Homo sapiens: one gene and its partners. The protein of the gene in region 3 interacts with the protein of the main gene of each other region in a pairwise test. Each region holds a gene or a part of one and is shown on either strand. Other genes may lie near its edges.

Region 1 (7,076 bases), on a different chromosome or scaffold from region 3:
TAGCATAACATTCAGAATTAAATGAAATCACATATTTAAAGCACTTAGCACTGTGGCCAAGCAAATAAGGGAAGACAAAATAAATGTAAGTTTTCTTCCCCCATGTGCAAGACTTTGTACTTAGGTGAGGGTCACGATCCGGAAGGCAGACAGACAGACACTCATTACTGCCTGCACAGTGTCATTAACTGTTGTAAGAGAAGTACATTAATGATCACATTCCCTGTATTCCCCTAGAGCTTTCTTCATACCTCATGCTGACCTGGCATATAAAATTGCATTTCCTTTTCTCAAAGACACATACAACAACTCTGCTACTGACGCTGAGGCACAATGACAAAATTTATTTTTGCCAAGGCTCTACGTTTATCAGTGTTGTAGAAAGGATAAGACTTGCATGTGAAATGATTTAGACAAGAAGTTTCTAAAGCTTGGTCTTCTGTAATTAGGCCACAAGAAAAACATACTGAAGCATAATAGAATGGCTCACAACTGTTTTTGCACATATACTTTAATACTTAGGCTTGGGTAAAATCATTTTAAATAACATATTAAAATATGTTTGGGGGGACAACCCAGCAATTGCACAGCCCACTAGAAAATTTTAACATCTAAGTAATATAACTGTTTTAGGGTCTGAAAGTTCTCCTTCAGTTGTTCCACAGCCTCTTTATCAACTAGGCAAATATATTTAAGCTTTTAAATTTCATAATGTTGGTATTTTTTAAAAGGCACGGGAGGTTCACTTAATATTAAATATATAACATTCACTTTCATAACCAAAACCTTTTTGGCAAGTGACTTTCACATAGATTATGAGATTCTCTACATGCCTTAAAATAAATCTGGCAGCTCTTAACTCATATCTAAATTCTCTGGACAACTGTCTTGCTCTCTGTTTTGGGGCCAGGGGCGTAGCAGTGAAGGCCCTAACAGGCTTGCTGACCTAATTGGACAGTTTGTTAAATAGCAGGAAATGTAACAAGGCTTCTCTCTCTCTTGCATGTTAATGTAGTGAACAGTGCTAATAGCCAGAGATTGTGCAATTTAGTCACAATATTTCAAGCCAAAATTCAGTGTTCTTATATTAAAAGATACCGAAGAAAGCTATCCTTGTTCTTTGAATTATAAAAGCACAGAGGTTGCAATGATCAGAACCAAACTGGTTAAAAGCCGAAATGCATCCTTTCAGTATTGATTTGACAGATGCCAACAAGCATTCAAAAATTTAGAGTTAATTTCTTGGTGACAGGTAGCATAAAATTGATCAGACTGGTTTCAGCTGTATCATAAGCTTCACAAATTGGAGATCTTGTCCTTCCTGGCTGTTTTTTTTTTTTTCCCACACCTTAATTCTAGCACCTGTTGTCAGACCACTGTTCAGCACCAAAAGAACTCCTCAGCCTGGAGTTCTTTGGAGTTTTAAGTGATTGCCTAACTCAGCAGGGGACAGTGGTCTTGACTTCTTGGTTGACGGTTTAAAAACATAAAAGAATTTTATATTTTAAAACTGACAAACTAGAAAATGTTAGAAACTCTATCTGAAGGCAGAAAGTATAAAGTTGGTGGGTACCTGATAAAACATGATGTATGTAAATACAGTTCAAAACAATTTAAAAGTATAAATATTTGTCAATTATTTTTCCTCCAGTGCTCTGGCTATTGCTGAAAACACCTTCTAGTTCCACCTTGTAACTGGACTCCCAAAAGATGAATGCTGACATCTTCTGATGCTTAACAAGAAATAAAAATAGTCACCTTAATCATCAAAAAGGTAATTGCAAAGGGCACTGTTGCCTGAAATTCTCTAGTCACCTGAAAACTGAAATAACTGAGGCAAGACTTCTTAAAATGCTTAGTTTCAAACTTAAACAGAATGGCCTGATAATGATCAAACATGTACAGAGAAATACATGAAATCAGAATTGTGAATGCAGAGAAATAACTGTTTTGCTAGTTTAAAAGTCTGAAGCTTTTCCCTCCTCCCCAGCTGTTAATGTAGGAGACACACAGCCTAACCAGGACAGTCTCAATGCCCAGGAATGGTTGTGTGATGACTGATAAAGCAGAAATTTCTTGCCTATTAATAGTTTCCCACTGTTAGAAGGCTACAGCCGTTGGCAATCAGATGTGGGCTCAGGTTTTCCTTATCCTGGGGCAGGAATGCCTGGAGGGACCACGATGTGGGTCACACTGTACATTCTGTTTACTGTGGGCACAAACACAGAACTTTTTTTTTTTAGCTTATTAAATCGAGAATATTCCTGAGGAGGCATCCGCTATGGGCTAAAGGTCCCAACATCACAATAATAAATAACAGCTATGTTTACAGAGACACATTCAGGACACATGCAAAAGCTTTTCCTAGCAGGAGGACTTGGGCCTTTGCAAAACAAGCTGCTTGGGCCTCCCCAGAGGGCCCACCCTCCCATGCACCTACCCCACCACCCTGCCCCAACTCATTACACAACTCGGCCTTCTGGCCACCTGAGGCTACTTTTTAGACCAAGTGACTCAGACGTTTCAAGTAGAAGACAGGATGGGCCACTGCCAGGGGACCTTGCAGCAGAAAATTAGGTCAGAGGACTTGGAGGGTGGTGAAGAACAACCAGATAGATGTGAGAGCCCAGCAGGGAAATGACAGGAGGCGCAGCTTAGGTGTGGAGGCTCCAGGTGGCCGGTCCCCGCGCGGCTCAGATGAAGTGGATCCAGCTCTCTTCGCACTCCCCGCGAGGCATGTGCAGCGCGTGGTTGCGACATGTGAGGCTGTAGTCTCGGTGGTCGTTGTTGTCCCAGTACTCGGCACCCGCCACTTGGTAGCGCACCGCGAAGTGCACGCGGGAGCCGAGCTCCAGCAGGAAGGGCGGTACTGGAAAGCCGAAGGTGAAAACGTCCTCCGTGCCCTCGGGGCCTGCGGGCCCGCGCCACCGCGCCACCGCCTCGTGGGTACTGCGCCAGCCCGAGAAAGTGTAGCGCACAGCCACCTGCTTCTCGAAGGCCACGTTGCACACGCGCACCGTACCGCTGATGCCAAGGTCCGAGCAAGTGACACGCTCCAGGCACACGAGCTGCCGCTGCAGGCGCTCGCCAAAGTCGGCGGCCTCGACGGGCGGCGGGAAATCGGGCACCAGGCAATGCAGGGTGAACTCCAGGTCCTGGCTGCTGCAGCACAGGTCCGAGTTGATTGCGAGCCGCGACAGCACGTGCAGCGGCACGGACGGGTCGTCTCCCGCGTTGAACACCTTGACCTGTGCCAGCTCCAAGCCCAGGGCGTCGGCGAAGCGCACGCGGAGCTTCTGGCTGCAGCCCGGCCGACACGCAGCGCCCGGCGCGCCCGCGGCCTTCTGGCGGCGCTCGGGGGAGCTGGGCAGTGAGCGCGCCCGCCGCAGGATGATGGGCCGCAGGCGGGGGTCGCAGCCCGACGGCGCTGGCGTTGGCGGCGGCGCGCGGCCCGGGCTCCCAGGGGGCCTACAGGCCCGCGGCTCCAGGGCCACGCCGCCGTCCAGGTCCGACAGGCAGCTGAGGCTCCGGGGGCCGAGCTTCCGGGATCCCAGGGCGCTAGGCAGGACCGCGGAGCTCGGGCCTCTGGACATGGCCCCGCCGGCCGTCGGAAGATGAGGCAGGGATGAGAGACGACCTCCCGACCCCGCGACAGCTCCCTCCGTGCTCAGAAGCCGCAGAGAGTCCACCGTATCTGCAACCTGCGGGGGACCTCTCGGGCCCGGTGCGCCCTACCCTTGGTTCGCCACCTTGCTCCTCGAGTCCTTGTCCAGGTCCTCCGCTTCTTGCGGTTAAAGAAATTGTAAGAGTGGGGAGTTTTTCTCTAGTGGAAGCTTTCAGAGGCCTCCCGGGAGCGCAGGGTAGCGCCTCTTTTTTCTTCTTGCTTCCTTGGAGGTTCTTACAAGAAGGCTGCGTTCCGGGAGCGGCCCCTCCCACTTTCCCGGTCCGCGGCGTTACTTACAAGGCTGCAACTTGACCGGGTGCAACTTCCTAGCGAGCCTCCGCCCCGCCCCTCGTGACGCCGCCTGCAGGCGGGCCCCCGCCGGCCTCAGCTCAGCCAGGGAGCTCAGCGGAGCTGCGCGCCTCCGCCTCCAGCTCCCCTGCCGCAGCGCGCCGCAGCCGGGCGTCCCCGCGCGGGCGCCGGAGAGGAAGGAAGGCTGGCAGCCTCGTCACGTGTCCGCTGCAGTCGCGAAACAGGTCTGATCAATTTCTGTTTACGTCTGCCTGGATTGCGCGCCTATCGATCATAGACTTTGTCTGCACAAACGGAGGACAAGGAAAATGCATGCTGCGTGTCCTTAGATTTCTGGGTTGTGGATGGGGGGAGCGGTGGTGCAAAAACCGGCCTTGCCAGGAGCTGGTCTCAGGCTAATTTTAAACATCGAGGCCAGCCCACACTTTGGACAGGTTCACTGCAACCTGGACCCTTGGTCAGACCGAGGGAGCCTCACTGCGTAGAGGAGCAGCGTCATGTCCACATCACCCAGAATGCTTTGCCGCACCGAATGGCCAGCAGATTCCCTTGAGGGTGGGGAGGGGAGGTGCTGCTGTTGTCTTCCTGGACTCCGCGCCAGAGAGGAAGACAGGGGAACAAGAGTTATTACCCGCTGATGACTTCTGCAGCTGCCCTTAATCAGCCTCTGGCGCTTGGGGAGCATATTTGTAGCCAGAATCTCCGACTTTTAGCTTTGTTTCCAAGCAAGCCAGAAACACCAGCAAGGCCTGGAGCTTGTTTTCTGCCTATTTAGAACCCTGCAGGCATTCGTGTCTCTCACCCGGTAGCTTTGAGCACAAAACCCCACAGCCTTTGGTGTAAAGCATACCAGGTGAAATGAAGTAGAAAAGATGCAAGTGCACTTTCCAGAGAGCAGTTTGGGGCCAGCCATTCCATTAAGAAGGTTCCTTTTTATTGTCCAGAGGGACAAAGCAGAAAGAAAACCAGACTAATGAAAGGGGGTTGATTCAAGAACATTCGTTGCATCTAAAATGAGTCAAGGCTGTTGATTGTGGTATAATTCATGAAATGTGAGAGAATGATTTTATTTATCATTGGATGTAAGCTAACTAAAAAGGCTTACATGATTAATGTGGGAAAAATACAGGAAAGTTTCAGGAAGAAAATAAAAATCTTCTATAATCATCTCTTTTATTTTACAGAGACAGGTGATACGGGAAAGAGAAGTATCCAATTTCCATTCAGTGCACTTTTAATAGGCCACTCAAAATGAGAGGGGAATAACAGCAATATGTGGTATAGGTCAACAATGCTTCATAAAGAGATGATATATAATATGTAATATGTATGAATATATGGAAAGTCTTATAATGGATTGATGTGATAGAGAAGGCCGAAAAATTGAATGGGAACGTTCCTCCTAGAGTTTAAGCTCCTTCTGAACAGGGACGTGCATAATCATTGCCATTTTTCTGGGTACTCCTGTAATTATTTGTTGCATGAATGAATGATTGGGCAATGCAATGATTGAACGCTGTAATAAGACCTGACCTTATTTAGCCTTCCAGATTTCTTCAACATATTATTTCCAAGGAAGATTATACCTGTGTGTGAACAGGGAGAGAGAGAGAGAGATGGAATCCATTCACAGTATTTATAGTAGTGTGATCCTGTGATCCTGTCTCTAATATCTACTGTAATAAGCAGAAAAGACAAAGCTGTAAGCATAAGACAATGTCTCCCTTCCCCAGTATTTCATAACCTAGAGTGCAAACCACTATATGATCACAGCCTTAATATTTCAATATTATACAAGTATTAAAAAACAAGTGAAAAACCAACCCGATACTGGTGGTAGGACCATTTGCAATCAATAGTTACTGACAGTATTCTGTTGCTTCTAGTTCCGGTGGTGAGGAGACCTTTCCAAATATAAGAGGAATAAAGAAGTCACCTCCCCAGCTGTCATCATCTTCCAGCAGATTGAGCAAGAATATTTTGAGCACTACAGGAAAGGTAATGTAAACTTAGAAGAAAAATCTGACTTAGATTTATTCTGGGATTTTTGTTTGTTTGCTTGCTTGTTTCTTGTGTACATGTTCACAGTGTTTATTACTGCATCCCTGTTTTTAGACAGTCCATCAAACCCGAGATGATGATCAGCCACGTGATTTTTTCAAGAAGAGGAATAGGGTGAATGAATCTCATCAGAAAAGCAGGTAAATAGTTTTAGTATAATTGCTTTATCTTGCAAAAGACTCATTATCTCTGTTGTCCAGATTGAATATGTGGAGTGGGGAAAAAAGTATGTCTATAGATAAGAAATATACATTTATAATTTTTTTCTAGCAGAAATGAATAGAAAAGTGGTTTAAGCATAATAGTGGATAAGGATTCCAACGGTCATAATTCTGGCAGTTGTTAGCAGAATTATAATTTTGAGTAAGTCCTTTAATCACTTTTCTATGTTAGTTTCCTTTTATATAAAAGGATAGTGACAATAATTAATTTTTATGGATGCATACTGACAGGCAGGAACAAAATGTTTTAACAGTGTTATGAATTCTGAATAATGGAGATTCCTTCATTTCTTCATTTATTCAACATTTATTGAGCACACGTTGTACTATTGGCAATGATTTAATGTCCTGCATATTTATTAATTAAAATGTAGCACGTATTCAAATAGTTGCTTAGGTTGTTTGAAACCACTGGGCAAATGAACCTCTGAAGTTTCCAGAAAGCATGTTTACCACCCATTTCTATTCATTCTATCTGACTTATATTACAGAGAAGTATTATTAATCTTAAATGCCACGTTCTTGGTAAATAAATTGAAAAGAGGATATTTTCAACTCTGATGTGAGATTCAGCATCAGAATAAATTATGCCAGAGAGAATTAGTTTCTATACTCATAATGCACACAGTATTCATTATTCCCTTTACCTGCTATTCACAAGGTAACACTAAGACCCTGTGTTTTCATTCATATGTGTTACAGGGCACCATATGATTTTATTTCTGTTCTTTAAACACAATTTTCCCAAATGTGTTTTCTGTTTGAAAACATTGTAACAAGCTTTTGATTTAAGGTACAGGTTTGTATGTGCAATACTTTTA
Region 2 (7,029 bases), on a different chromosome or scaffold from region 3:
GCAAGCAAGCAAACAAACAAACAAAAAACCCAAAAGCAGTTACCCATGTGTAGGTAAATATCACCTACATTCTGATGCATTTTCTTGATTAAGAAAGGGGAAGAATCAGGTAGCACACCAGTAATGGCATGGCATAGCAGGTAAATGCCATTTATTTCTCTAAATCTCTGTATATGAATAGTAGAGATCTCTGGACTAAACTCTAGTCCAATCTCTTATTATCTAGTTTTCCAGAGGGTAATTAAAGTTCTTAAGTATAAAAATTTCACAATTGACTGTGAAGATAAGTTAATCTGGGAACTTACACAACACCCCAATATGTGTTCAATAAATATTTTGTTGGATGACTCAACCTATCATTTCTAATTTATTATATGCTTTTTCTAAAACAGGATTCAAGGCTTAAATGGGCCTACAACTATGGGGTATGATACCGACCTAAGCCAGATGTAAGCTGATGCTATTATTATCTGGAAAGCAAACCTTTAAACCAGAATCTTAACCAAGTTTTGTTATAGGAAATAAGTACTTAGATAGAGAAAACATCATTTGCCTTCTTAAATCTTAAATATTGGCCACTTATTGACACTTATAAAGTGTCAGTGCCTATCTGTGTAGCTCTAACACCTCCCCCAAGAGGTTAGAAAACTGAAAATATAATAAAATTTAACTAAGTCATTCAATGATACAGAATTAAATTATTTGAACACAACTTGCTACCTCCATAAATGTATTGAAAAGCCCATCCAAACATATCTGACTTTTTATTCTGAAATAATATCCTGAACACAGTGAAAAAACATTCTGAAAACTAGGATTTAAGAAACTTATTTACTTAAGCAGTAAAAAGTTCACCTCTATGAAATATTAAGATAAGCTACAAAGCAACAGATATTGTATTGGTACAAGAAAGACAAAGTACTAGAACTGAGACAGACCAACATTTATATGAGGGGACATAACTAACACTACCAGTAGCCTCACAAATTAATGAAGACATGACATACTGCTTAAAAGATGATGTCAGAAAAACTGACCCACACTACAGAGAAAACCGAAATGGGATTCCTACTTAACATCATATCCAAAGATGGACTACATATGGGTTAAAGACCTAAATGTAGCAGATGAAATTATAAAGAGAAGACAATGTAGGAAGATATTTTTGGGAAATATGGGTGAGAAAAAACTTCAACAAATTCCCAAAAGCAATTAACTAGTTTGATTGCATCAAAATTAGTGATTTCTGTTTAACCAAGGGCAACATAAAGTTAATTGACAATGGTAAATTAAAGAAAATATCTGTACTATCTAAAAATGACATAGGACTAATACCAAGAATACAAAACAAACTCCTACAAATTCAGAGGAAAAAATAAGCAACTTTCAAAGAAAAAAAGGACAAGACATGTACAGGCAATTCACAGTAGAGGAAACTTAAAGGACTAACAATCATTGCTACATACAGAAATGCAAACGAAAATAAGATGTTCTTTATTGGCAAAAATTACATGTTAGGAAAGAATGGAGATACGGGAACCCCTTCTTGCTGCTAGTGAGTGCGTAGGTGGCTGAAAGCATTCTGTGGAGCAGATTATTTGGCAGTCTTTAGTCAAAATCGGCATAGACATGCCCCATGGACAGATTTGAGGATGCATACTTTGGCAGTGTTCTTTGGAGGCAAATTTGGGAGAGGTCATCACTAGGTAAAGGGGACAGGTAAATGTGTAGGATGTGAACCATGAGTACTACAGAGCAAGAAGAAACAATGGCCTAGATTTGCACTGTCCAACATAGTAGAACTACCCACATGTGGCTATTTAAACTTAAATAAAAATCAATTAACATTACCCAAAATTAACAATTGAGTTCCTCAGTTATGCTAGCTGCAGCTCAAAAGCTCAATAGGTACTTGTGGCTAGTGGCTACAGTATTAGCCAGTACAGATTAAGAACATTTCTCCTTTCCATCATCATAGAGAATTCTATTGGACATGCTGCCTTAGATGAACACAAAGTATCATGGATGTTTCTTTAAAATAGTGTTGAGAAATGTGACAAATGTAACATTAGGAAGTGAAGTCTAAAGCACACTTAATTATGTAATTTGAAAAATGCATACAATGAAAAAGAGTAACATCGAAGATGTTAAGAGTTATCTGTCAGTGGGAAGGGAACGGCAGTTAGAAATAGGTAACCAAAGGGAATATAAGTAAAATGAGAGATACTTTGTACGGACTGATGCGCCTGGTAAAACCACGTACTAAAGAATATTATTAATCTCCTGTATTTGAGGTCCAACAACAAATGTTGGGGTTAGTGTCAGCCAGAAATCCTGGGGGGAAATGGTAAACTCCAACTCTGATGCCCTCAGGAACAAAAACTGTTAAGGTTGCAAAGAAGGAATTTTTCATATCCCCATTGCCAACCAATTTTCATTTAAAATTAAAATCTTTTTTTTCTGCCTCAATCTCAATTCTACTATGGTACTACTTCACTATAAGCTTTCTTCAGGGAAGAACGAATTGTGACAAAAAAGAACTATCAATGGCCAGAGAATAAAAGGTGAAATAGACCCACTCGATTGCCACCAACATTTTACAATGAGTTACTGTACAATTCCCTTAACAGAGCTATTTTGATTACACAGGGCAAATTCTAATAGTGGGACCAGATCAACTTAACACAATATATGAAATAGTGAATACATTTTTTTGTGTTTCTATTTTCTTCAACAATTAGGAACTGTAAACTGATGATTTCTACCATTGACACATATTAACAAGATAAAAATAAAAGCCTGGGCGGGGCGCGGTGGCTCCTGCCTGTAATCCCAGCACTTTGAGAGCCAAGGCGGGCGGATCACGAGGTCAGGAGATCAAGACTATCCTGGCTAACACGGTGAAACCCCCTCTCTACCAAAAATACAAAAAATTAGCCGGGCGTGGTGGCGGGTGCCTGTAGTCCCAGCTACTCGGGAGGCTGAGGCAGGAGAACGGCATGAACCCGGGAGGCGGAGCTTGCAGTGAGCGGAGATCGCACCACTGCACTCTAGCCTGGGGAACAGAGCGAGACTCCGTCTCAAAAAAATAAAAACAAAAAAATAAAAGTCTGATATAACTTAGCATGGATTTTTCAGTAGAATAAGTTAAAATGTTCTGGAACGATTTTGTCAATGCATGTTGAAAAATCTGAAAATGTTTAGTGCTCAGTAAATTTTCTACCGTTCCCTTAGTCATCTCCATTTTAATTCTAAGCAGACGGAGGTCATTTTAAAACACAATACTAATAGAAAACATATACCGTAAATAATATGTACCAGTCATCAACTCAATTCTCACAACACTGTAAGGTAGGACTATTAAAATCTCCATTTAACAGACGAAACAGAGGTCTGTTAACTGGCTAGCCCAAGGTCACGCAGCTATTCGTGGCAAACCTGGGCCACGAAGCACCACAAAACTATGCTACTTCATCGATCTTCTGATCCATCATCCCTGAGGATTCAGATTTGCATTTACCTGGAGAATCTCACGGTGCCACAAAGTGGAGTTCCCGGTTCGTGGCTTATGAGCCACACTGCCCGCTGCGCCATGGTTAAGTCAGTAAAGCATTAGCTCATCTCATAATTAAGGTCGCCACCGAGGAACAGCGCAGACCGGCTTTCTCAGACAGACTCTTAACAGAAGCCCTGAGGCTCATCCTGCGCCGCATACCGGTCGCGCTCAGCAGAGAGGTTAGCTTTTTTAGGTGAAGTCACTAACGCTTCTGAGTCGCTCTAGGCCAACACACACCACAAAAAGTTCTAAGAACCCCAACCTATAACCTTGAGAAATTTACCTATACCCTGCAACTCCGGTATTTTCTTCCTCTAAATTCTACTTCCGGAATGGTGGCCCGCAAGGATCAAAGTTCCTCATACACGGTAGCGTCGAGCCTTTTTTCGGTTCTTTCGCCGCTCGTTTTATTCGCCGGCCCCTCCCGACAACCTCCCTGGCGCGCGCAGTTCCACTTCCGGCGTATGAGGCGGTGACAATGGGAGCAGCGCGGGCGGCGCCGGGAGGCAGCTGACAAGCGTTTGCGGCTTCGCTTCATGGCCGCTCTCCCGCCCCTCCTGGGATCTGTGGGGAGCTGGGGAGCCCGCAGCGGCCCGGAGCCGGAGCTGGCGAGCCGAGCGGAGACCTGTGCGCCGCGCCTCTGAGGCGCAGCATGTGAAGCGGAGACGGCATCCAGTGGGGGGCGAGCCTCTCAGCCGGCCGGGATGGCTACCACGGCCGAGCTCTTCGAGGTGGGCCCCGGCGGCTCTACAGGGAGTGGCAGGCCCGGGGTTTGCAGGCAGCTGGGTGGGCGGGCCGAGGAGCGGGCGTTTGCTGGCTGCCCAGGAGGAGCCCTCGGGAGAGAGGTGCGAAACAGAAGGGTTGGGGTGGCAGCTCCGTGTCAGCGCGGGCGGAGCGTGAAATGGGGGAGGGGTGCTTGGGGCCGAGGTGGGCTGGGCGGCCGGTCGGCAGAGAGGGGAAGCCGGGTGTCCCAAGGGAGGAGGGTTGCTTTTGTTTGTGGGGGCAAGAGGGAAAGTCTGGAAGGTTCGGGTGTTGGAAGATGTCTACTCCGGATGAGTAGTGGGAAGGGCTGACTCAGGACGAGGAAAGAGAGCCAGGAGCCTCAGGTTGGGCGAGTCTTGTCGCTGGGGTCCTCGCGGGAATAATAGGAGGAAGCCACTTGAGATCGGGACTCTTGGGGGCTTCTCGTTTTGAGTAATTATTCCATTAGTAAGGTTGCAGGTGGCATTCATAGGACTGCCAGTTTAACCTGACATTTGAAAAGGCTGGGACAATTTTTTTTTTTTTGGACAATAAAGGCCTACTTATCTCTTTCGACTGAAGAGAGATAGACTGAAGGGAGGCAAAATTCAAGTGAACACTTTATTTCATGTAATACATAATAATACACTCGAGGCATTTACGTGTATTATAAAATAAAAAAAGTTTATAAAATAAAACGAACACTTCGTTTCATGTATATAATGCACCTTAAGTGTATTATATGCATTTACATGTATTATAAAATCACCTAACTGCAAGCTAGAGAATCCTTAATATGTAATAGTGAGAATACTAATGTCTTTCCTCGAGCGTTTACAGTATCTAAACCTTAAAATTTAATTTCGTGAAGTCCGTTGTAAGAAGCTGTGATAAAAGTTTGAGATAATAGAATAGGAAAACTCTAATTAGGCTACAAAACAATGACACGTATAAAGCATCTCCTTGTGTGAAAGAAATGAAAACGGATAAGAAAAAGGAAAGAAAGACCCCTTTTTTGTGTGTGTGCTTGTGTTTCACATTGAGTAACAAAAGTGTAATAATTGAGAAGACTGTAATCCACAATAGGGAACTTCTCCATAAGTGAAAATGGTATCCTTTTTCTGCGTAAGATTCAGCAGTTTTTGTGGCTTACAATTTGAATGCCACAGTTTTAATAACAAATGGAAATTTACATTTGTTATTGTTACTATATTTTGCATATCAGTCAGCTTTTGGATAGATAATGCTTTTTTTGAGAGGAGTAATATATGTTATTGTTATAATAAGTTGTAATAAGACAGTAATTTGTGAATGAAGGATTGTAATTACAAGAAAGACTTCAGAGATATTGTATTTTCTCACTTAAGTGTTGGGAGATATGCTACATTAATTTCTGTAATTCCAAAATTGTGCCATCTGTTTATTGACACAAGAACGGGGAGACATTTTTCCTGCTAGGAACTTTTACTGTGTCCCTAGGTACTAAGTAGTGCTGTGGTTCCTTGTTTTATTTTTCACATCTTAAAAAGGGAGAAAACGATGAAGTTGTATGAGATCTTTAATTAAGGTATTTGCCGGCAAGCCAGCTCTTAACTGAAAACTGTTATATATGTTGTCATACAGTTCATAAGACATTATCCTTTGAGTTAATCCTGCTTGACAGTTCCAGTTGTACCTTGGACCATCTTATGTATATTTTTATTTAAATGTTTGACCACATGATTTCAGTAACTTATTTGGAAATATGTTTGATTTTTTTTTTTCCCCTCTCCCTAGCGGGGAAGGGGAGGAGGTGGGGAAATATATATTTTGCTTTCTGGGGTCCTGCTATTAGGTTAAGTAGTATATATATACGTTTTATATATATATATATATACACACACACACATACACATATATATATATAACGTATATATAACATACATATATATAATGTAATTTAGTGACTCTAGTTACATGGTAGCCAGTAAGATTCTGTGATAATAGAGACAGTAGCCCTTAGACTACCCTTAGGCCAGAGGGTTTTTAGGACAAATTTAAACGTATTTATAGATCTTAAAACTGACGTGACTTTTTTTCTTGACTATATGTAGCTTGTTGCTTCATCATAATTAAAAGCATAATAGTTACAATTAAGTTTCAATAGTTATAATTAAGAAGTGCATTTATCTTTTCTGGTACTGCTATGAATCCAGCCCTACAGTGGACTCTACTCTTGAGTAAGTTTTCATCCCCAAGTGAAAAGTTGATCTCTTGGCCTTGGAGGGAGGAGGAAAAAAAATCCTGTCACTGCTCAGTTTCCTGTAACTACTGCCATAGCATCTAGGTTGTAGTAAGAGTCACGGGAAGTATCTTTTTCTCCTGCTTCCCTTTCTTAGTCCCAGCTGGAGAACTGTGGAAAACGGAAGGCAGGATGTAGTCAAGGATGTTTGGTTTTTATGCATCCTGATTTTCATGCACTGTTAAATAGAATTATGCTTTCACTTTTCATGTTAGGAGAAGTTAAATGAAAACAAAATTAAGCTTTTGAATCCATGACATTTCATTATGTTAACTCTGCTTCTTTTAAAATCTTATTGGTCCCATGACTCTCAATGAAAACAACTTCATATAACAAAATCAAACTGTAATATATTTCCTCAGTTGACCGAAATGATTTAGTAATAGATGATTTGGCTATTGTAATAGTGTATATCCTGGAAGTTTCTCAGAATACCTTCTTAGTTTCAACT
Region 3 (7,026 bases):
ATCTATAATATGAAACTTATAGATGAGTTTGTAATCTTGAGAAGGAAAAGACGTGGAATCTTAAGAAAAAAAAGTTAGCTTTTGATTCGAAGATTAGTTGCTCAAATCCTAGTGAAACGTTCATCCCTGCTCATATTTTCTCCATGTTAGCCAAAATAAATTAGTAATTTATTCAGACATAGAGGCCACCAACTCTGCAATCATCTTTTTTTTTAAGTGTTTATATTTCTGGTTTTCATCCTTTGACATAGGAGAAGGTAGCAATAAAGAAAATAAAAAATTTAACTAGAAAGTAGAATCCTTAACACAACTGCTGATTGATCTGGGATCCGTTTTCATTTGTTTCCTTTCATTTTTGCATAGTTGTTTGTCTTAGTAAAGACAAGTAAAGGAATTGGATTAAAAATGTCAAAATAACAGGAAGTGAATACTCAGTGTTTGTATTTCTCAAAAGATCTGTCTTTCCAGTCCCTAAAACAGAAAATGGACGCCATGTGCAAGGAAAGCTGCAAAGAGTGGAAGACCAGATTAAACTCTTACATTTCTCAAAGCTTGCTTGGTTTTTATTTTGCCTCCCAATCATGTAATTATTGTCTTCAACTCTTTCCCAAGTAATTCCTGTAACGTCATATCTTAATTCTTCCTCAAAAACTCTATTTTTTCCTTGTTTTTCTTAAATATCTCATGATTTCCCAGATCTATACATTGCATTTAATTTATAAAAAAAGAGAAAAAGTACTAAGAATTGTGTGGACTCCTAAATTGAGTTTTATCATTTTTATCATTGCCTGATTTTCACACCTGTTAAATTTTCTTAAATTAGTAAATTTTCTTAAATTATAGCAAGCAGAGAATATATTGGTCCCAGTTGTTTCTAGAGGCCACCATCTTTAACATACTTCTCAGTATCAAAATAACATAAGTATGTAAATATGATAACATGAGAGCTATAGTAGAACCCAGAGAACACTGGTTCAGAAAATGTGAGGTAAATTCTCTTCCTTGATAAGGTCGTTCAAACTCATATGTGTTCCCCCTTTCAACAAGGAGATAAATACAATGCCTGAAATGTATTCTATGGTTGCTATGAAGATATTTTTGAACCGTTTATATTCTGGAGTATTAAACCTGTGCTGTCTTAAATGGTAGTCACCTATCAGATGTAGTTAGGGAACGCTTGAAATGAGGGTCGCCTGAATTGTGATGTTCGGTGAGTACTAATTAAACACAGCATGAAACGTAAAAATGTAAACTATCTCATTAATAACTTCATACTAATTACATTTTGAAGTGATATTTTTGAAAGATTGGATTAAATCAAAAATATTATTAAAATTAATTTCACATGTTCATTTTTTAACTTTTTAAATGTAGCTACTTTAAATTGCAAATGTTGCTTGAATTATATTTCTATTGGACAAAATAGCTGTAGAGCATCCAATAGACTTTAAGAGCTTCTCTTTTTCCACAGAGAATTTTACAGAAATAGAAAACTGCATTCTGATTTTTTTCAAACATGTTCAGAATGTTTTGGCAATATTGCTGTCTCTAACACCTAGAGGTTTCCTAAATACAGGAAATTAAGATAATTACTAATAATATTACTTGCAAATATATGCTTGAAAAACATATTCTACTGATAATAAAAATGCATACCAAAGTAGCCTGCTATTCAAAGGTAAGTGAATGTGACATTCTCATTCTCTTCCACATGGCCACATAATACAGAAGAGGTGATGTTGCAATAATCATACAAAAATAAAATGAATATCATTTTAAAAATTGGATATGTTTGCTGAGCATTCTTATCTAAGCTTTGAGACATCCCATTAAAATATATTTAAAGCTGTTTAGACAACATGGGAAAAAATAATTATTAATTTTAAAAATGTATGTCATTGTTAAAACAGCAGTTGTAAATAAAAACCTAAAAATAATATTAATTCATGTGTTCTTAACATTATTAATACATATAATTTTATTTTTATCCAAAATTTTGGCAAAATGATAAACACATAAAAAAATTATGGGCTTGTAATCTGCTGTATTTGAAGGCTTCTTTGTCTTGCTTTGATCACTGGCTGAAGATTGCTCTTTAATACAGTCTGTAGGACTGATCAAAATGTTACATAAGCAGAGAGAAAAGTAAATGAGATCACTGACAACACTGTAGAGTCTTGGCATGGGAATGGGTATTAACATTTATATAATGAAACCAATTATGTTAATAGGTTAGGAGAAGTTGAATATGTTTTCAGGGACAAGAAAAATTTTCATGTCCAAAGTATTTCATATATAGTGTCGTTACAACATCCTCACCTCTCAGTTCCTATTAATTCCAATAATATGACCTCACCCACTCACTGGCTGGTTATGCACCTAGATCCCATTACCATACTAGCATTTCTTTCCATATCAATGATAAGCACCTCTCTGATTACCCTTTACTATTGTCCCCATAACTCTCTTTTTTGACCTAGCTATGGCCTCCTGTCAATGGACTGTATTGTTTTTTCTCTCTTCCTCATCGGCTTCACATCCACTCTCTCCTCCCTATTCTGTGCTCCAGTTTTAACAAATTGCTCTGAGCAAGCTTGGCATTCTCTTGACCCTACTTGCTTAGAAACTCTAATGTCAGTGAATCACAGCTGTCTTCCTGCTCCATGTCTGCACCTACACTCTTGATCAGGCTTTGAGAAAACACACCCATTGCTATCTGGTCTCACTTCAGTTTCTTGACTCTGAACCTCATATGGGCTTTAATGTAGCCAAGCCAACTCTACCATAGGGAAATTAATATTTTTCCCTGATTAAATCACAAACATTCTACTGAATAATCCCATACATTAGCTATCTTCAAAATTTTCATATCTTATTCAGCTCTGCCTTATCTGTTGAGATTGCGGGGGTTTTTCTATTTCACTTACAAAAGATATGTAATTATAAGACAACTGCCATCCACTGGTTCCATCATATCTATGTGTCTAATGGATACCCATATGTTATTCTGTCTGTTTTTATAGAGAATTACTCCACGTTCTTAACACCAAACTTCCCATTTGTATGCTCTATCTAATTTCCTCTAATCCGCTCCAGGACATGGCCTCCTCAAATATACTCCTCTCCTGTTTAACTAGTTTGTACCTCTCTCTAGATTAGATTATTCCCATTAGCAAATGCACATGCTATAATACCCTCAACATAAAAAAAAAAAAAAAGATTTTGATCCCAACCCAGCAGCCATTCCATATCTTTGGCATTTTCTAAAATAAAAATTATTTTAAAGACACTTTCATTTATCTCATTTTCTCTTGAAGTCGCAGTATCATTTTCAACTCTAGTTTGCCACAAAAACAGGAAATCAGTGACTTCTACATTGCAAATCTAATGGTCAATTCCAGGCCTGAAATTCCTGTTTTACTTGGCCAACCAGAAGCCCTGTATGTGATTGTCCATTTCATCATTCCCTTTCTTGGCTTCTGAGGGCATCCTCTCTCATGGTTCTCCTCCTACTCCCTGGTAGCTGCCCCACATTCTGTCTCAGCTTCACACCTCTGACTGCAAGCGCTCCAACACTGAGACTTCAGGCTGGGGTAATTGCTCTGGGTGAAGGCATCCAGGCCTTTGACTTCAAATTCATTAATTTTCTGAAATTTCCTAACAGACATATCTCTGGCCTGAGATGTTCCTTTATCTCTGGGATCTCACGTGTCCAGCTGCCCACTTAACATCACTAAGGATATCTAATCAGCATCTCAGATTTCACATGTTCAAAAACAAACACTTGAACTCCCCTCACATCTACACCTGCTCCTCCACAGTGTTCCCTGTGTCAATAAATGCACATTTCACTCTTCTAGGTTTACAGACCAAACTTAGGGGTTACCCTTGATTCCTTTGTCTCTTCATTGCACATCATTGTTGGAAACTCCATCAGTTCTGGCAGGAAAATATGAAATACAGCCTATGCAGAATTACAAAAACTCCATCTCTAATATCTCCTTCAAACCACCCTGTCTCTTGCCTGGAATACTGTATGGTATCTGGCCTCCCCACTTCTACCTTTTCCCTACTCCAGTATGTTCTCCACAGCACAGCCGAGTGGATGCTTTGAACACTCAACTTATGTTACAATATTTCTAGGATCCCAACATTCAAATGACTTCCCATCAAACTCAGAATAAAGTGGTTGTAGTTTATGATGTTGTCATGATCTAAACATAAACCATCCCTGAACTCTTCATCAGGACCCATGATTTCCCGACCTGAGGCTCCTACAGTTGGGGTATGAAGAGCCCTTTTAAAAGTAAAATAATATTAGGTTGGTGACCATGTAATTGTGATTTTTCCCATTGAAAGTAATGGCAAAAAATGCAATTACTTTTGCACCACCCTAATATCTTGAAGCTTAAGCTGGATTTACTTCCTCTTAAAGTAGCTTCTGCCTGTGCCTCCCTGCCTCGCTCATTCCCAGCAGCTGCCGGCCATCTGGCCATTCCTTGAAGGGACATTCTTCTGACTTAAGACTTTAGCACATGTGATTTCCTTTATACTTCTCTTCTGCCAAGATTCCTCGTGGTTAAGTATCTTACATCCTTCACCCTAACAGAAGGGACATTCCCTGGTTATTTCAAGAGTGTGTAAATATTCTATTCCCTTTTAGCCTGAATGTTCTTTTTTTCTTCCAGTACTTATCATGACTTAATATATATTTATATACTATGTATGGATTCTACTGCTTTACCAGCTAGACTATATGCTTAATGTAAAGAAAGGGGTTTTACTTTTTATTCACATCTCTATTTCCATTGCTAGAACAGTGTCTGAGACATGGTAGACATTTATTACTAAATGGACAAATCTAAAACAGAGTGACTTAGAACTATTCCTTTTCTTCCAAAAGGCAAGCATTACAAGTTCCACTAAATAAGTCAGTCTTCTCTAAAGAAGGTGGCTTTTAGATATTAAACGCTTATAGGCTTTTAAAATTAATAAAGAAACAGTTTTAAGTGAGGTTAACCCCAATCACACCACTTTAATTGCTATCAGCAACTTCATTCTTCCAAGTACTTAAATAATTCACAAATACACCTATGATGATTATCTGTATATACAAAAGATGAAGATTTACATTTATTTGGCCAGAAATACTTTTGAAACAGCGTGGAAAGTGGATAGGATATTTGGGAGAACAAAGCCATGTATCCCTTTCAGAGATAAGAGGACCAAGGGGTTTCAAAAGAATCAGCAGATGGGAGGTGGAGTTTGTCTTCTGCACTATTTCTACTTCTGATATCGTTTTGGATAAAGATCTATGCTTCTCGAATATGTCATTTATATTAATTCAGATAAACATCCTGCTCAATAATATGGAAGAAACTTATAGCCACAGAGGAAACAATGACGGCCAACCATAGACAATGAATGGACCATGTGAGGTCCAGGACCAGAGCTTTGCATTCAGTACCTATGCTTAGGCCCCAGCCTTCTGTGAGAAGCCTGTATCTGAGATAGCCCTCCTAGTTCTAATCCATGAATACTGGAATTTCTCCCATTAATCTACATTATCAGGTCAAATTTATTTAGTCCTGATACCAAAAACATAAAATATAAAAACATATCAAAAACATAAAAGCCAGCAAGTAAATTCATATAGCATTAACACCTTTAGAGGGCACTTGTAGCACGACATAATTGCAACATCCATGTTTTTAATCCATGCAATCATAAATTCTATAACTTAAGTTTCATTATTACAAAAAGAATGAAGAAGCCTGGGCAGTATCAAAAATAGGATGGCAGGGACTCTACGTAGTTGCTTTGACCCAACTCATTCCTACCATTGACAATACCTGTAAAGTGATTTCCAAACAAAGATAGAACAAAGCTCACCTGAACCCTCAGACAATCCCTGAGATTATTCTAGCTCCAAATTAGGAACAGGTTATAACCAGAACCTTCTAGAATTATATGAAACACCAATGGATTATGGCACTTCCACATCTTTCTCTTTTTTCCTGTGCTACCAAATGTTATAATCCCACTGAGCACCTTATAATTTTCATGTTTTATTGTGAAATACATTTTCTTCTCATCCAGAGAAGAAACGCTTGTTCAAAACCCTTCATGTCAAAAGAAGATAGAAAATTCATGAATATAGGCTGACTAATAAGACTATTTGATCTTTTGCAGAGGTCATAAATGTAATCTTTCACCTAATGCCTTCACAATCCTAAATTCACTAAGGGAGGAAAGGAAAGATTGTATGAAAGACTCTCAAAACTATTTCCAAATGAAAATGAGTCTAAAGTTGCTACAGGTTTTTCTTCATGCAACTATTGCCTCTTTACCTGTGTTATATTTCCAAACGTTTACTGCAGCTTAGAAACATATGCTCCCGAGTCAGTGACTAAAAATCTCACTTTTATTTTTGGAAACTTTAATTCTACAAATTTGAAACAGACACTATGATAAGATATATTTATAAATTCTTCAGTGAGCATATGTTTTTTTTCTCAATATTAAGGACACCTTTTTCTTTAGCTACTAAAAAAATCCTTCTATCAAAATTTTAACATCAAATATTTTAATATATTTATGACACACAACAGCAATTCTTTTAGGAAATATCATTAAATATAAATCAACTTGGATAATATTTAAGTATATAATAATGTTAACAGTCCTTTGCAAAGCTATGACTACAATTAAATGGCCTTGAGCACAACCTCCAATACAATATCTAGTTTTCCATTTTACAATCAAGGTCTCAAGCTCACAATCTCCATTGAGCATCTACAATTAGTCAGGGCACTGAGGATGGAGCACTAGTTATACAAAATGTCTTCTATAGAATATATTCTTAGAATGCAACCTAAACCTGTACAAAAATAAAATCTCAAGGTCAGTGACCAAATCTTTGCATTTCAACTATCCTCATCTGTTTTCGTGTACGGCAAAAAGATACTCCTTCAGTAAAGCCTACTTAATGATAGTATGATTCTAAACTAGTAGGCAGTATGTTCA
Region 4 (7,529 bases), on a different chromosome or scaffold from region 3:
AGGGGGCAGCATCTACTTATTTCTAGCCCCTGGCTCCACCCTAGGCCTTGATTTTGGGGTGGTTGCCAGGGAAAGAGTTCCTGGTTGGGGAGAAGGGTATCTTTGGGGCCCTTTCGCACATTTTTGCCCCACACTCATACTTAGCGATAGGTTGGGTTTTCTCAATTTTGTTCATGAGGAAACAGAACTGGGATTTGAAAAATGGGCCTTCGTGATTGCCGAGCTGGTAACTGCTCCGTGGCGTCCATTCCCCCACCCCACCCCCTACTCCTGCAGACTCCTCTTTCCCTCGTTTGTTCACGAAGACAAGTACTTGGTTAAGATGCTGCAGAGACAAGGATGTTCTCAGCCACTTCCTAGAAGAGCTCCACCCATCCTCCTACCCTCCCTTACTTCAGAGCATGGGCTGTTATGGGGAAACGACCTGGAGACATCTAAAGCCCCTCATTACAGGATGAGGAAACCGAGGCTCCCAGGTGGGGAAGTTACTTTTTTTTGAGACGGAGTCTCGCTCTGTCGCCCAGGCTGGAGTGCAGTGGCGCAATTCGGCTCACTGCAACCTCCGCCTTCCCGGTTCCAGCTATTCTCCTGCTTCAGCCTCCGGAGTAGCTGGGACTACAGGCGTGCGCCACCACGCCCTGCTAATTTTTTTGTATTTTTAGTAGAGACGAGGTTTCAACATGTTGGCCAGGCTGGTCTTGAACTCCTAACTTCAGGTGATCCATCCGCCTCAGCCACCCAAAGTGTTGGCATTATAGGCGCGAGCCACTGGGCCCGGCCGGAAGTGGCTTTTTACTTTTTCAAGTCACTCTACTAGTGAGGAATGGAAGGATGGGACTCACGCACTGAATCTCAGTCTGGTGTTCCAGCATGTCCTAAGGGCAACCTGTCTCTCCAGTGTCATCCCCATTTTTGGTCCTTGTTTTTCTCCTTTAAGTTCCTCCTCTCCAATAAAGGCCTGAGAGTTCTATACTACTCAGACACTGCCTAGAAATGCAGGGTTTGTAGGAATTCCTGGCCAACCCAGTATCAACAGAACCCCCAAGGGCCCAAGGGCCCAAGGACCCCAGGCTGGGAAACTCCCACGCTAAGGGTGGAGGTTTGGTTCTCCTACTCAGGGAGCCCTCTGAGTACATTTATTCCATCATGCATTCATTAATTCACACAAGATTTTCTGACTGCCTATGTGTGCCAGGCATGGTGCTGGGCATGGTAGAGCTACAGATAAGAACCAGCTGCTGCCCTTGATCACGTAGTCTGGTGGAGGAGACAGCTCTGAGGAAGAATGATGCTTATCTGACTCAGTGTCACTTAAACCTTGGCTCAGCGTCGCCGCTTTGAAACTTTCTCCTGCACACTCTTCCACCAATCTAAAGTAGTTCTCCAGCCACATGTGGTGGCACGCACCTGTAATCCCAGCTACTCAGGAGTCTGAGGCGGAGGATCTCTTGAACCGAAGAGTTCAAGGCTGCAGTAAGCTATGGTCTCGCCACTGCACTCCAGCCTGGGTGACAGAGTGAGACCTTGTCTTTAAAAAAAAAAAAAAAAGGCCGGGCGCGGTGGCTCATGCCTGTAATCCCGGCACTTTGGGAGGCCGAGGCGGGCGGATCACGAGGTCAGGAGATTGAGACCATCTTGGCTAACACGGTGAAACTCCGTCTCTACTAAAAATACTAAAAATTAGCTGGGCGCGGTGGCGGGCACCTGTAGTTCCAGCTACTCGGGAGGCTGAGGCAGGAGAATGGCATGAACCCGGGAAGTGGAGCTTGCAGTGAGCCGAGATAGCGCCACTGCAGTCCGCCCTGGGCAAAACAGCGAGACTCCGTCTCAAAAAAAAAAAAAATTATTTTTATTTTAATTTTGAAAAAATAGGGAATGCTTCATGAATTTGCAAGTCATCCTTGCACGGGGCCATGCTAATTTCTGTATCGTTCAAAAAAAAATGATTGCTTAATGTACAAATGTTCAGATGTTCTCTGCAGGGATTAGTGTAAGCCCATAGCTTAGTGCTACCTGGACGAGCTGGGCCCCTTTTTTTACCCCTCCCCAGCCCCACCTTCTCCTTCCCATTTGTTCATTAACACCTTCTCTGGCAAACATGAAAGACGGAAGGGTGGGGTAGGATTGTCAGTTTCATTTCCTTTATCAGATAAGTGACAATTTCTGTCTTGGATGTGAGTCCCAAGACAGATTATAGGAGCCATGTTAAAGAAGCTTCAAAGATTGTGGAAGAAACAAGACAACTTGTGTATTTTCAGTTTTTGTGTGTTTTCAGTCTCATAGCCATTGTAACATTTGTTCAAAGCCAGGTTTGGCCAGTTTCTAGCTGGATGACCTTCAACAAATTACCTAACCTTTCTGTGCTTCAGTTTCTTCTTTTTAGACTAACCATACTTACTTCATGGGCTTGACTTGTGTATTAAAAAAGGAAAAGTAAGCAAAGTTCCTAGACCAGAGCCTGGCATGCAGTGGCCACTCAACAGTGCAGTGGTTCTCAACCGCTGGGCCTGCTCCGTCTTCCCCTCTCCTAACTTCACCATGCTCAGGTCTGTCTCCTGTACGTTAGCTGCTGCTGCAACCTGTCACCCTCCAACTTGGGGTGTAACAAACTAATTTCCTAAGGTCTTAATCTTAGACTAATTTCCTAAGGTCTTTAGGGATTTGGGGAGGCTCCCTGCATTGCTGGGGAAACCAGGTGGCTGGTTTTGTAGTGGAGGGGAGAAAAAGGAGGTGGCAAAGCACACTGGTGACAAACAGATGGGAAGCTTATTTATCAGCACTTGATTGAGGAGGGTGGGCAGGAAAAGGCTGGGCCGTGCTGTCTGGCAATGACTTCCCTTCTCCTTTTTCCAATCCCTCTCACACATAGCCCTTAAAAAGATTAATACTGAATTACACAATAAATAAAATAATCCACGCCTGTAAATCCCAACACTTTGGGAGGTCGAGGCGGGCGGATCACCTGAGATCGGGAGTTCGAGACCAGCCTGACCAACATGGAGAAATCCTGTCTGTACTAAAAGTACAAAATTAGCCGGGCGTGGTGGCACATGCCTATAATCCCAGCTACTCGGGAGGCTGAGGCAGGAGAATTGCTTGAACCTGGGAGGTGGAGGTTGCAGTGAGCCGAGATCGCACCATTGGACACCAGCCTGGGTAACAAGAGCAAAACTCTGTCTCAAAAATAAATAAATAAATAAATAAATAAATAAATAGATAAAGTTACAATTTACAATTTCATTCTTCTTTGATTGGCCCTCTTCTCTCCCCCACCTAATTGCTGTTGTCCTTTTGGTCACACTGCCCTTTGTGACATCTCCTTCCTTTCAGGGCTGCCCAGACTGTAGCAGGCTGCAGTGGCTGGGGAGACCCTACTCATTCCTGTGCCCCTCCTAACCAGTCCTAGATAGGGCTAAAGAACGTCTATAAACCTTTTCAGAAGCTTCCAGTTGACACATTCTCTCTCTTCTCTGAAATCCTACAAGTGCTATCTCATGATTTACAAAGACCCAATACATGTGCTGTCTCATTCTGTCATTGCCAGTCTTAAGTCTTAAGCCCTTTGAGGCCTGATTCTACAGCCGAGACATCCTCTATTTCTCCACCATCTCTCTGTCTCATTCAGAGCACACAGTATGAATGAGGTCAATAAACACAGTGTTTTTTGTTTTGTTTTGTTTTGTTTTTGTTTTTTTTGAGACAGAGTCTTGCTCTGTTGCCCAGGCTGGAGTGCAATGGTGTGATCTCAGCTCACTGCAACCTCCGCCTCCCGGGTTCAAGTGATTCTCCTGCCTCAGCCTCCCGAATAGTTGCAATTACAGGCGCCCGCCACCACACCCAGCTAATTTTTGTATTTTTAGTAGAGACGGGGTTTCACCATGTTGGCCAGGCTGGTCTCGAACTCCTGACCTCAGGTGCTTCGCCCACATCGGCCTCCCAAAATGCTGGTATTACAGGCGTGAGCTACCGTGCCCAGCCCAATAAACACACTGGTTTTTTTTTTTTGTTTGCTTTGTTTTGAGACAGAGTCTTGCTCTGTCGCCCAGGCTGGAATGCAGTGGCGCTATCTCAGCTTACTGCAACCTCCGCCTCCCGGGTTCAAGCGATTCTCCTGCCTCAGCCTCCCGAGTAGCTGGGATTACAGGCACCCGCCACCACGCCCGGCTAATTTTTGTCTTTTTATTACTGATGGGGTTTCACCCTGTTGTCCAGGCTGGTGGAACTCCTGAGCTTAAGTGATGTGCCTGCCTCAGCCTCCCAAAGTGCTGAGTTTACAGGTATGATCCACTGCGCCTAAACATACTGTTGAGTGTAACCTCAAATAGGTCATTTAACCCTTCAGGGCTTTGTGTATCTGTAAAAGGCAGACAACAGTCCCTAACAGGCTATTGCAGATAATGGGCTTAGCACTATGAAGCAGCTGTTTTATGGGGCTCCAGGTTCACCTTAGGTTTGACAATTGAATTATGAAAGATAAAGGAGAAAGACTTGTCAGCCTCTCCGAGTAGATCCTTTGGCCGAAGGAGTGTCCATGTGGGGTGGTATCTCGGCCTGGTGGAGGGGGATGCGATGGTAGTGAGAATATTAGGGTATTCATATCTTTCCTCCCGAGTCAAACGTTGCCAGGCACGTTCCTTTCGCCCCTCCCACCCTCCATTCTGCATTAATTCCAAGTTTAATTCCAAATATTAGAGTGTGGTAGAAAAGGTCAAATAGAGCAGCCACGGATTAAGCAAACGCCCCTCCGCGTATGGTGGGGGCTGCAGCGCCCGTAGCTCCACGCTCCGCCCCGCCGCCGCTGATTGTCCCGCGCCTTGTGACGTCACACGCGGGTTTTTAAGGCCGAACCCTAGGCAGGCTCTGCAGAGGCAGCGGTTGGAGGCGCGGTGGGTGTCTGCGGGGGTCTCGCGGGGCGGCTGCGGTGTTTCACCGGGAAAGGCTCGAGGAGAGCGCGGCTCACGAGAGGTAAACGGACCCTGCAGACCGTGCTGAGGCGGTCCCGGTGCCGGGCCGCTGGAGCTGGGGTCGGCCATCGGAGGAGGGCGGGCGGGCAGGAGAGTGTCGCGGGGCGGTGGGGCGAGGGTCGCGGAGTAAGGAAGGGCACCGTGTCAACGGCTTGGGGCTGCGGAGGGCGGGTGGGAGCCGGACTCAATCTCCGGTCTCAGCGTCTGCACCCTAGCTCTTAGTTTGGGGGCACTGTCGACTTCCCCCGTCCCTCGGGGATCTTGCCTGGGGGATGGCGCCATAAGCTCTGAGAAGAGGCTCTAGAAGCCCACTGTCCATGGATCGAGCCCTCACCCCCCACTTGAGTGGCCCAGGACCTGGGAGTCTCTCTAGGTCCCATCGCCCCCCTCACGACCCCCCCAGGGAGTGGGGGAACACCTCTGTTATGCCTTAAAAAAAAAAAAAAAAAGGAAAGGAATTTTAAAAATGAAGGATGGGAGGGTGATTTAGGAAGGGATCAAGAAGTTGCAAATCTTGTGTGTATTATTAAACGTCTCCTTTTTCTCCCATGACCTTTTCTTGGTTCAGATAACCCAGCTGTGCTCCCTGGAACCTTCAATTTCAAGGCCTCCCTGCCTCTACTAGGCGCCTTAGCTCACTATGGGGAACCACTTGACTGAGATGGCGCCCACTGCCTCCTCCTTCTTGCCCCACTTCCAAGCCCTGCATGTCGTGGTCATTGGGCTGGACTCTGCTGGAAAGACCTCCCTCCTTTACCGCCTCAAGTTCAAGGAGTTTGTCCAGAGTGTCCCCACCAAAGGCTTCAACACCGAGAAGATCCGGGTGCCCCTCGGGGGATCGCGTGGCATCACCTTCCAAGTGTGGGACGTCGGGGGGCAGGAGAAGCTGCGACCACTGTGGCGCTCTTATACCCGCCGGACAGACGGTCTAGTGTTTGTGGTGGACGCTGCGGAGGCTGAGCGGCTGGAGGAAGCCAAGGTGGAGTTGCACCGAATCAGCCGGGCCTCGGACAACCAGGGCGTGCCAGTGCTGGTGCTGGCCAACAAGCAGGACCAGCCCGGGGCACTGAGCGCTGCTGAGGTGGAGAAGAGGCTGGCAGTCCGAGAGCTAGCAGCCGCCACTCTCACTCATGTGCAAGGCTGCAGCGCTGTGGACGGTCTGGGCCTGCAGCAGGGCCTTGAGCGCCTCTATGAGATGATCCTCAAGAGGAAGAAGGCAGCTCGGGGTGGCAAGAAGAGACGGTGACCCAAGCCCCCCCTCCCTTTCCTCCCACCTAGTAGGGGTCTGCACACTTGGACAGCAGGGTGGGACCAGCCTGTGACCTCTCAGTCAGACTGGGGTGCAGGACCTGTCCACCTCAATGAAGGAGAGAGGAGCATGGGGTGTCCCGTTTTGGTGCCACACTGGGGTGGGGATGGGAGATGGGATGTCTTTGCATATCTCTCTCATCCTCTCTGGAGAAGTGGGCGCTGCAGGACTGTGGAGACGTAAATGTAAACTGTGACTCTACCTCGACCCTGTTTCTTATTTTTCTTCTCTGGCTAAAAATTTTTAATTGGATGTGTTTGGGGGCGGGGGGATGGAAGTGACTTGGAGAATGTGTTTGGGATGAAATAACTATCTCCCCTTCCTCTGTCCCCCAACTGGGGAGTCTCCCCAGGCTGCTTTTCTAGGAATACCAGTCACATAGTTTTTATTTTTGTGTCTGTGAAAGTGCCAAGAACCCCTCCCCACATTTGTAGATCCATGACCCTTTTTATAAGCTGTGTGTGTCCTCTGTATTATTGTTATTAACTATTTTTTAGCATTTGCCTGTAAGTTATTAAAGACTGATAACTGTAGCTCTTACCTTGGTCTGGGGCATTTTCCTCTCCTTATCTTGCCCCAGAGACAATTCAAGATTTCTATATGGGGTTGTGGCGCAGGGGGAGGGAGATTTATCTTGAAGCTGAATTTGCAAAGCAAGCACTTATAAAAATTAGATTGTGTGTTACGGGATGGCTTGTGAAAATTATAGGGGGGAGTGGAAAACCCCTCAAGCTATTGCCTGATCTCTGTAGTTTTTTGGGTGGGGTCACTTCCTTTTTCTCTGATTTAACACCCCTCCCCTCATCCTCTGGGTCTTACTTGTCCCTTATATCAACTGCTCCTTGCAGATTTAACTTCAAATTTTGCTAGTCTGAGCTACTCCTAGGTTCTTGACCTTGGTGACACCTAAGTCTATATAGGTAAGTCCTCAAAGAGCCATTCTGTTCCCATCCTCCCCACTTCCCCAGTCTTAGGTTGGTTTGATTTTTTTCCTCCTTGTAAGATGTGGTGAGAGTGGAAAGTAATTCCTCCCTGGCCTTAAGTCACCTCTGTGTACTCAATCCTGCTGACTGGCTCACTGGCATGATGGCAGCGGCTGGTGCTAGGGAGGCCTGGGCTGGATTGAGCCAGCCTGGCCCTGGTGACTAAGCCATGAGTTTTCCAGCTCTGGGAATGGTAGCTCTTCTCACGAGAGGGGCAGAAGTAGTAGCTGTTTGTGCTTGGTGGCAGAGAGGACTGCTGGACATACACCCTCC

What was found.
Region 1: the proteins of CCDC102B (region 3) and FAM217B interact in binary tests that used the Homo sapiens proteins (3 or more experiments, as listed by UniProt).
Region 2: the proteins of CCDC102B (region 3) and EXOC5 interact in binary tests that used the Homo sapiens proteins (3 or more experiments, as listed by UniProt).
Region 4: the proteins of CCDC102B (region 3) and ARL4D interact in binary tests that used the Homo sapiens proteins (3 or more experiments, as listed by UniProt).

What each region holds. Positions count from the first base shown.
Region 1 is NC_000020.11:59,936,339-59,943,414, forward strand, and holds the start of FAM217B (protein FAM217B), read left to right. Parts: upstream 1-4,050; 5' UTR 4,051-4,197; intron 4,198-5,859; 5' UTR 5,860-5,971; intron 5,972-6,088; 5' UTR 6,089-6,174; intron 6,175-7,076. Other genes in the region: PPP1R3D (protein phosphatase 1 regulatory subunit 3D), read right to left, coding at 2,694-3,593.
Region 2 is NC_000014.9:57,265,880-57,272,908, reverse strand, and holds the start of EXOC5 (exocyst complex component 5), read left to right. Parts: upstream 1-4,003; 5' UTR 4,004-4,260; coding exon 4,261-4,287; coding exon of another isoform or gene 4,288-4,401; intron 4,402-4,542; exon of another isoform or gene 4,543-4,662; intron 4,663-7,029. Other genes in the region: AP5M1 (AP-5 complex subunit mu-1), read right to left, coding at 3,521-3,594. UniProt on the Homo sapiens protein: Component of the exocyst complex involved in the docking of exocytic vesicles with fusion sites on the plasma membrane.
Region 3 is NC_000018.10:68,801,057-68,808,082, reverse strand, and holds part of CCDC102B (coiled-coil domain-containing protein 102B), read right to left. Parts: intron 1-7,026. UniProt on the Homo sapiens protein: During interphase, forms fibers at the proximal ends of centrioles to maintain centrosome cohesion. During mitosis, dissociates from the centrosome following phosphorylation to allow centrosome separation. Contributes to CROCC/rootletin filament formation.
Region 4 is NC_000017.11:43,394,129-43,401,657, forward strand, and holds ARL4D (ADP-ribosylation factor-like protein 4D), read left to right. Parts: upstream 1-4,864; 5' UTR 4,865-4,965; intron 4,966-4,967; exon of another isoform or gene 4,968-5,024; intron 5,025-5,532; 5' UTR 5,533-5,604; coding exon 5,605-6,210; 3' UTR 6,211-7,009; downstream 7,010-7,529. UniProt on the Homo sapiens protein: Small GTP-binding protein which cycles between an inactive GDP-bound and an active GTP-bound form, and the rate of cycling is regulated by guanine nucleotide exchange factors (GEF) and GTPase-activating proteins (GAP).